2 linked regions of the Homo sapiens genome follow. The protein of the gene in region 1 interacts with the protein of each later gene in a biochemical or structural test. Each region holds a gene or a part of one and is shown on either strand. Other genes may lie near its edges.

Evidence for each region. The genes of interacting proteins can lie anywhere in the genome.
Region 2: the proteins of SLC8A1 (region 1) and S100A14 interact in a biophysical measurement, tested with the Homo sapiens proteins (one large-scale study listed by IntAct).

The regions. Positions count from the first base shown.
Region 1 is NC_000002.12:40,112,735-40,116,911, forward strand, and holds part of SLC8A1 (sodium/calcium exchanger 1 isoform A precursor), read right to left. Parts: intron 2,896-4,177; coding exon 2,519-2,895; 3' UTR 1-2,518. UniProt on the Homo sapiens protein: Mediates the exchange of one Ca(2+) ion against three to four Na(+) ions across the cell membrane, and thereby contributes to the regulation of cytoplasmic Ca(2+) levels and Ca(2+)-dependent cellular processes.
Region 2 is NC_000001.11:153,613,350-153,618,065, forward strand, and holds S100A14 (protein S100-A14), read right to left. Parts: upstream 2,977-4,716; 5' UTR 2,946-2,976; exon of another isoform or gene 2,884-2,945; intron 2,588-2,883; 5' UTR 2,510-2,587; coding exon 2,480-2,509; intron 2,033-2,479; coding exon 1,886-2,032; intron 1,674-1,885; coding exon 1,536-1,673; 3' UTR 906-1,535; downstream 1-905. UniProt on the Homo sapiens protein: Modulates P53/TP53 protein levels, and thereby plays a role in the regulation of cell survival and apoptosis. Depending on the context, it can promote cell proliferation or apoptosis.

The DNA.
Region 1 (4,177 bases):
CCATTGCCAACAAAGATAAAAGATGGGATACACTGGGCTTTCTCAGTGATCTGGATCACCAACATGATTGCCCTTCTTGGTTTAAAATGGAGAGATATATTTATCTGCAAGTCGGTCAAAGATAAAGAGGGTGGTTTTCCAAACATATGCCTTATGCTCTCTTAGTTAAAGAAATTCTTGGGTATAAATACAATTTGGACAATTGCTTTGATACAGTTTCAGTGTGTTTATGTTAAAAGAGTTTCATAATTGTTTTTTCTTGCAAGATAAAAATCTTTCCATATGGCTTTCTTCACTTTTACTCATGAAAATAGTAATCACATAAACTGTAACCCTTCTGAGGGCAGGGATCTAGACTGTTTTGTTCATGGCTTAGTCCCCAGAAAGTATCATACTACCTGGCACATTAAGTGGGTAACCAGCATTTAATTACTCATTCAGTCACCAAATGTTTATTAAATGAGGAAGGATCATGGTTACTGAGTGACAGAAGAAAAAATAAGTCTCAACAGCTTTAATTTATTAAGTATTTTTGAATCAATACAGAGGGCTAGGAATGTCTCCAGCCTGGGATTCCTTATAGACACAGAAGTCTCCGAGAGGTGACCAAAGTCATTCTATTATTTTTCTCATTAGTGGACTCACTACTTTGGAATGTTGGGTTTATCCATGTTCTTTGGTATTTTAACATAGAAACAGCTATTCTTTTTAAAGGGTTAAAAATATCCCAGTCCAATCCTCCTGGGAGGTACTAGTCTTATTTAATTGCCTTCTCTTTCAGCATAAGTAGAGGAGACAACACTTTTAAAGGCCCGTTGGTCACCCTGGCTTCTTTCTTACTCAGCAACTACTGATATAATCAAAGAGGACTAGACTGGACAGTGAAAGAAACAGGGCTCAAAATAGCCTTTTAAGTAAAAAAATAAAATGAACAAACCAGCACTATCTACCATCTGTGCCAGACAGTGCAGATGTGAAATAAATACTTTGCAGGGAGGGGTGTTGTGGAAAGGGTGGCTCTGAAAGCCTAGGCACATCCAACATATCAACGTCTCTATAAGGCCTTTCTCCTTGGCCTTCCTGAATTAATGGGTGATTTTTAGAGGCCTCTGATGTGTTCCACATGGCTAATTTTCCATGAAGATCTTTGTAGTTTGCCTGCTATCCTCTCAATAGCTTTAACTTCTCCCCACATGACAGTTATTGCTTCTTAGAAATGAATGTGCAGAACCGTGAACAATAATCCATTTTCTCCTTTTATCCCTAGTAATTAATCAAACTCAATAACAGCACAAAAGTAACAACTCAGGTGAAAAGAAAACTCACTTATGTCTTCAATGTCCAATCAACATTGCCAAATGGGAGAACAGTATGTACTATACTCTACTATATACAGATACTCTTTGTTTTGTTTTATTTGTTTTTCACCATGCACTGTGTAACAGGTATCACAACAACATTTCCGAACGGCACATGAAGAAGGAGCAAATGTTCAGTCATGACTGGAACAGGATTGTGCAAGCCATGGATGCCTTTGAAAATAAAACTGACAGACAATCCCAAGCAACGGCAACATGGGACTGAGACACATGTTAATGCAAATGGAAAACGATGATGTGCTTTTTGAATGGGGTTATTCTTACTGTTTGCATAGGGGATGGCAGGTGGACAGGAGGAACAGGGTTGGGATGGGGCACCTGGGGGCTTAGCTGGGCTGAATGCTGGAAGAAGGACCTTGCCAATCACAGTCCAGAGCTAAAGAGATAAGAAAGAAAGGATTTTGCACGTTCCTGGGAATCTAGGCACGTTTTCCTTGTACCTGTTAAACGAGACTGCCAGGTATCACATGTTTAAATATCAGACTATTTCTAGAACCATCGGATTTCCTGGCTCCATTCCACTTTTATGCTTCTTCTTGGAGGCAGCTTCACCTCCACTCACATTCCGGAGATAAGCATGAACTTTGGTAATACGATGAAGACATGCTTCTTTCTTCTTCCATGCCCAGATTTTTTCTTAATCCAAAATAAGTTTTAAAGTGATTGGGGGAGGTGAGGGGGAATACTAATGATTTAAATTTTTACCAAAACCCATTTACATTTGGATGGTTTCACTTTCCACAAAGAAAAGCAACAACCCTGACTCTCCCAAAAAAACAAAACAAAACAAAATAACAAAAATAAAGCCAAACATTAACTACCTCCCCAGCTCCACTGAAAACAAAACCAAAAACAAAACAAATCAAAGCCTTAAGGATTTATCAACCTGGAGAGAGTGCAGCCCTTCTAGACTGAGCTGCAAAGATGGCCCTGCCTCCATGCCTTGTTGAACATGATGATGCCCCTGGGAATGGGAGGTGATGGTTTTTTACTTCGGCCCTAGTACAGAGTATGCTCTTGAAGCTGGATTCCATCAGCAGGTAAGTGAACATGACAAATGTCAGTTTCCTCTGTCCATTATACATAATTTTTATGTATATATATGTATATATATAAATTTACTATATCTGATAGTTCCTTTAGAAGCCTTTTATGTGGCAGTAGGCCTCCAGGGAGGAGAAGAAAATGTACAAGAGCCATAGGAGCACAAAGAGGCAGGATGTGAGGAGCTTGGCAGTCCGGGGCCCACCCAGCTCACCTCCGATTTCTGGCCTCCGCCGATACAGCAGCACCCCCACATTGATGAAAGCAAAAATGGTGAAGAGAGTGACAGAGAAAGCTAGTGTGCCAGGGGACACTTTGAACTGTTCCCCATTGGCTGCGTGGTAGATGGCAGCGATGGACCAGGCCACACCGATTCCCAGGAAGACATTCACCGCGTTGCTGCCCGTGACGTTACCTATGGAGGCGTCTGCATACTGGTCCTGGGTGGCTGCCACTTTGCTGGCAAATGTGTCTGCAGAGGAAGAAGAGAAAGTCAATGACACTCAATCTTTTAGAGATGTCTTTGGAGTGCTGCAAGCTTCAGCTGTGTACTCTAGGACCCAACCCTTAATATAAACCCAGTGACCAAGAAATGGCTTTGATGTTCCTCTGAGTCAGACTCATGGGGTGAAAAGAACAGGATCTAGATATTGGGAGTTAAGGGTTCAGTGCTGGCTGTGTAATGGACTGAGCAAGTGATCTTGGTCAAGTTTTGTATCCACAGATACTGCAGTTCTTTGTAATATTGACCTTGCAGGGCAGCATTTTTTCAGAAAGTAGTCACAGCTCACCTACATCAGAATCAAGTGGGGTCCTTTCAAAGAGTGAGTATTGCAAGGTGCCATGCGGCTGTGCTGGTCATAATGACAGCGGCCCAGGAATCTATTTTAACAGTATCCTAAAAGATTCTAGGTCACTAAAGTTTCGGAACAGCTGCTGGAGGGTATTACTAAAAGATGCTGTATCAGCAGCTCTAGTTTATAGATGAGAAAGTTAAGATGTCGGGAGAGATTTTTCAAGATTCAAGAGCAAGCCAATAGTGGAATTGAAAACAATTGAACTATAATAGAGTAGCTGACATTTGCTTAGAGCCTTAAGAATAAAAAAGCAGATTCAGCTATATTACTGCATTGATTGTGATGGTACTTTTTTATTATTATTTTTTATTATTATACTTTAAGTTTTAGGGTACATGTGCACATTGTGCAGGTTAGTTACATATGTATACATGTGCCATGCTGGTGTGCTGCACCCACTAACTCGTCATCTAGCATTAGGTATATCTCCCAGTGCTATCCCTCCCCCAACCCCCACCCCACAGCAGTCCCCAGAGTGTGATGTTCCCCTTCCTGTGTCCATGTGATCTCACTGTTCAATTCCCACCTATGAGTGAGAATATGCGGTGTTTGGTTTTTTGTTCTTGCGATAGTTTACTGAGAATGATGGTTATGAGGTGAGGGAACGAGGCTTAGAGATGACAAGTAGTGGATGCAATATCACAACTAGGAAAAAAACATGTTAGGGCTACAGCTCCTGCCTCATGTCTTCAAAACGAATGCTTTCTCATGGTGCTTTTCTACCTTTCACTGTGCTGTGGGCACCAATGATCATTTTCAAAGCCCTTTATTTACTCATAATCCTGACTGTATCTTTTTGTGATGATAGGAAAATCTTGGTCCACTACAGAAGGTTGAACAACAGTGACTTAAACTTCTTGATGGGTAGAACACAGGGGTTTAGAGCACATTTGAGCT
Region 2 (4,716 bases), on another chromosome or scaffold:
AGGGGCTCCCAACAGACAAGTTCAGTTAACATTCCAGGCCAGCCTAACTGGCCACAGAAACCTCCTTGCCACTGGGGTTTCAGGAGTAACGCCCGACTTCTGTGCTCAAATCAGAAGGCAGATGCCAGGGACCTGTCTGGCTCCCTGGTCTTCTGTCTCTAGTCTGACCCATCAGCTCTACTGAGACCCAGCCCTAAGATCCCTCATGTACACCAGAAGACTCCTCTGGAAACTCCCCACACCCCACCGTTTCCCTAAGATACCCAAGGAAACTGGCCAGCTCGACCTCCCTACACTAGGGCAGCAGCTGAAACCAAAGAGGGGCCCACTTGCCCACTCCAGCGGGAATGATATTGGGTCACTGGGCACTCACCATGTGTCAGGCTCTCTGTAAGTGCTTTACATGATGTGTGGCATTGTCCTCCTGGCAATCCTGTGGAAGTAATATTCATATCCCCCATTTTACAGATGAGGAAACTGATACTAAGAGCATGCCCAAAATTCCAATGATAAGTGGCAGATCTGAGATTCAAACTCAGGCCAGTCAGCCTGTTTCTAACCGCCCCCCACCCCCACCCACCCCATTTCCCTGGTTGTGCCAGCCAGGGCTCAGAACACCTGGACTAATATCCTTTTCCCCAAGTGTGCACACATACCCTCCTCTCCTATAAGAGGGCCCGCCCATTGGCAAAGAGGAGCCTGTCCCTCAGAGAGGACCATGTTGCCCTTTTGGACCTGGTACCACCCTCAACCCAAACCCATAGGGAAAAGTGAGTCCCCATTCACTTCCACAGCCAACCACTCCAGCCCCACGTGCCCCACCCTACCAATGACTTTGCCTTTCACCCCCAAGCTCCTCTCACCCGTGGACCCTCAGGGAGGGGGTGTCCAGTCAAGACAACATGTTTCACTTTTTTCATTTTTTTTTATTAATCAAATGATACAAAACAACCATCATTCTGTCAATGCCCAAGCACCCAGCTGGTCCTCTCCCCACATGTCACACTCTCCTCAGCCTCTCCCCCAACCCTGCTCTCCCTCCTCCCCTGCCCTAGCCCAGGGACAGAGTCTAGGAGGAGCCTGGGGCAGAGCTGGAGGCAGGAAGAGAGCACTGGACAGACAGCTATGGTTTGGATTGGGGAAGAGATTAGGAAGTAGGTTCTTAAAGACCCTTTTTTAGTACCAGATATCCAGCCATATTCCCAGCTCCATTATTCAAATCATTTCCCATAGCCCAGCTCCTCTCTGTTCTCCCCCTACTACCAATTCTTTGGCTCTTACACAATTTTTATCCCTCAAATATTCATCCCTGGCCCAACCAGTCCCCTGAGCCTCCCTCTGGTGGAGACTCCTCCACCCATGAGCTCCCCAGAGCATCCAAGACAGAGTGCACAGAGACCTGGGGAAGGAAGCTGAACTTTGCAGAGATGAGGACAGGTGCAGGCTAGGGTACAGGGTGGTGGTAGAGGAGACAAGTTTTATCTCCAGGCCCACAGTCTCTCCCCAACACCCCCCAAGAATTCCAGAGGGAGTTCTCAGTGCCCCCGGACAGGCCTCTCCAGCTTCACACTCTTGGCCGCTTCTCCAATCAGCTCCCAGAAACTCCTGAACTCCAGTTTAGAGTCATTGCAGCTGCCCAGGTTGGCAATTTTCTCTTCCAGGCCACAGTTGCTCTGAGGGGAGTGAAGAAACCATGGCTCAGGGATGCAGCACCTTCCAATCTTCCCACCCCACCCTGCCCACGGGCAGACAGCAGGAGCAGAGGCTACCTAGCACTGGCAAGGGGGAAGAGCTGGGGGTTGCAAGTGCCAGTGTGGGTGGGGTCCCGGAGCACTTGCTTGGGAAGTCAGGGTACTGGCTGAGGTGGGGTGTGCTCCGTCCATACCGGCATGAGATGGGGCAGCTGCTGGGTGACCAGGTCCCGTAGCTCAGAAGGGGTCAGCGTCTCCTTCCCACCCTCCACGGAGTACTGGTGAAAGTTCTTGATGAGGGTCTCAATGGCCCTCTCCACATCACTGAATTCCTGAGCATCCTGAGGGCAGGGGACATCACAAACATCAGTGAAGCTCCATGCACCCCAAAACCCTGCTTCTCCAGGAGCCTAGCAAAGCCCCCAGGGCAGAAGGCAGCTGGAAGGCACACAGCTCCCACCCACTCCAGAGCCCAGAATCTAGCCCCTCTCCCCCACCCCCTGCTCGGCCTCCAGGCCACAGCAGCTACAGGTTGGGGAAGGCTTCCCTCCCCACACCCCCCACCGCAGGCAGAGCAGGTCCCAGCATGCACCCAGGCATCCTCTTCCCAGGAGGACTCCATCTGCATCACCCTGTGTGGGCCTCAGAAGAGGGTTCACATCTCACTCACAGGGTCTGGGGTGCAGGGCAAGGCCAAGGTGAAGGGCAGAAGTCAGTGGGGGGACATAGACCCTCAGGGTGAAGGAGAGGAGTGTGGGAGCAGAAAGGCCAGGAGTGAATGAGCCCACCTCTGCGTTGGCTGACCGACACTGTCCCATGGTGCCCACTGTGTCTGGTCCTTTGGTGAGAGTTCTGTTGTCCTATAGCTGGCCCCAGAGGAGCTGATGGCTCATGATCTGCTTAGAGGAGGGGGTAGGCCTGAGCTGAGGAGAGAGTCTAGCATTTCTTTCTCAGCTGCCCCCTTTGGCTCCATCTCAGATATTCTGTGCCTCACCAGGGGTTCAAAACCAACACCACATAGGCCCAGGCCCCGCCTGGGCTTCAGGAGCCAAGGTCATATCCCCCAGGCCAACGCATCTAGGGGGAATCCCTTGGAACTCACCTTAGCTTAATTCTTTCCACCTCCTCCAACCACCCACCTCTGCTTGAAACACACACACCAACCTCCAGGATCTGATCCCCCAGCTCTTACCCTAAGTGTGCCCTCTGGACAGCAGGCAGTATATTTGGGTGAAAAGCCTTGGGTTTCCTTACCTGTTGGCAGCCGCTGAGACAAGACAGGAGGAGCCAGCTCACCTGAGCTCAGCTCTTATACCTGGGGGAAGGGAGGGGAGGCAGGGGGCTGGGCCTAAGCCACCCCTGCTATTGCAGCAGCCTGGGCTATGAGCCAGCTTTATGGGCCCCACCCTCCGCTGGCCAGAGTTCCAGAGCCTACCATGACCCTGCCACGAGGAGGGAGCCACAGAGGGCTGGGGCTGGGAAACCCCTGGCCTCCGATCAGCATGCAGAGTCACAGAGAAAGAGAAGCGAGAAGGCTGGGGAGACAGAGAGGACTTCGAGACCTCATGGGGTCACCCTAGGAAGTGGAAGGGCCCTGGCGAACTGCAGGGCAGGGAAGGAGAGGGGGTCTGAATCTGTGACCAGGAAGGAGAAGCAGGAGCCTCTGTACCCTCCATGTGTGTCTGTCTGTCTCTCTCTCTCTCTCACGTGCACACACACACACACACACACGCACACGCACACTTCTCCCAGTCAGGCCCAGCTTGGATACTGACACTCAAGCCTGCCTGGATCCCAGAGCCCAGCCTTTACCAGTCCTGGAGGCAGAGAGATGAATGTAGAGAACTTGGATCAGGAGGAAGCCAGAGAAGGGCAGCCTGATGGAGGGAGGCAGATTGAGTGAGTGTTTGCCTGACCTCCCTTCAGCTCCCCTCAGCGGCCCAGAGTGCACAAATGCAAGGCCCACTTGAGCTGCTTGGCAGCTAACACCAACTCCAAACTGGTCGGGCCACGTGTTTCTCTCTCCCTCCCTCAGAGCCCCATGCCTTCCCTAACCCAGCTGCAGAGCAACAGCCCCCCATCCAGGACCCAGAATGACATCCCAGAGAGCCCAACCCCAGTGGCCCTCCTCACCTGCCCAGGCCCAGACACCTAGAACCTGAAGTCACTGGGAGGGGGTAGGAAGAAGGGCAGAGCAGTAGGCATGAGTCAGGGCAAGGATGGGGTGCGGCCCAGAGCCAAAGTTCCCAGGATCCTTTCCTAAACGCTGAGATCAGAGCACACCCCACTACATCCCTCCTCATGTCACCTTCTCAACCTGGGGCCCTGTGTGTCTCAATGGAGAGGACCTTCCAACAATGTCTCATTCTGAGAGTTCCTCTGAAGGGCTTCAACCTGCAGGTCCCTCTGAGGGTCTCTCAGCCTGTGGGTTCCTCTGAGAGTGACTTAGCCTGGGTTCCTCAGGAGGAGGCTCAGGCTAGGGGGTTCCTCACAGGGCTTCTCACGGTAAGGGAGCCCTTCAGTGCAGGAGCCCCTCTTGAATGTCTCTGCCAATGGCCCTTTGGATTCCCAGTCTGGGAGTCTCTCTGAGGTCTCAGTCTGGGGCTCTCTAACGGAGGGTCAGGGAGCTCCCTCAGCCTAAAGGTTCCTCTGGACTCATAGCTGCCCTGCATGGATGCCTGCCAGTGAGGCAGTGACAGCCCTGGGAGGCTGGTCACCGAGATGCCCGCCCCTGCTCCCTCTGGTGGTGGCCGTGTACACCATATGCCCCTCAAGCCAGGAAGGCAAGGCAAGTTCTGCCTCCGGTGGCACCACCACACCCTCACCCCACGGTCCTTGAGCAGAACATCGGGCCCCTCCTTCTGGCTTCCCCACTGCTCCAGAGGGTAAGGGGAGGAGGCCCTAGTGTTCCTGAGCACCCAGCCAGAGAGGATCCTGGTTAATCAGAGCTCTGAAATCCACCTATTCTTGTCTTTATGACTTTAACTAAGATCTGTGTCCTGATCTTTAATACAGGAGTTAAAAA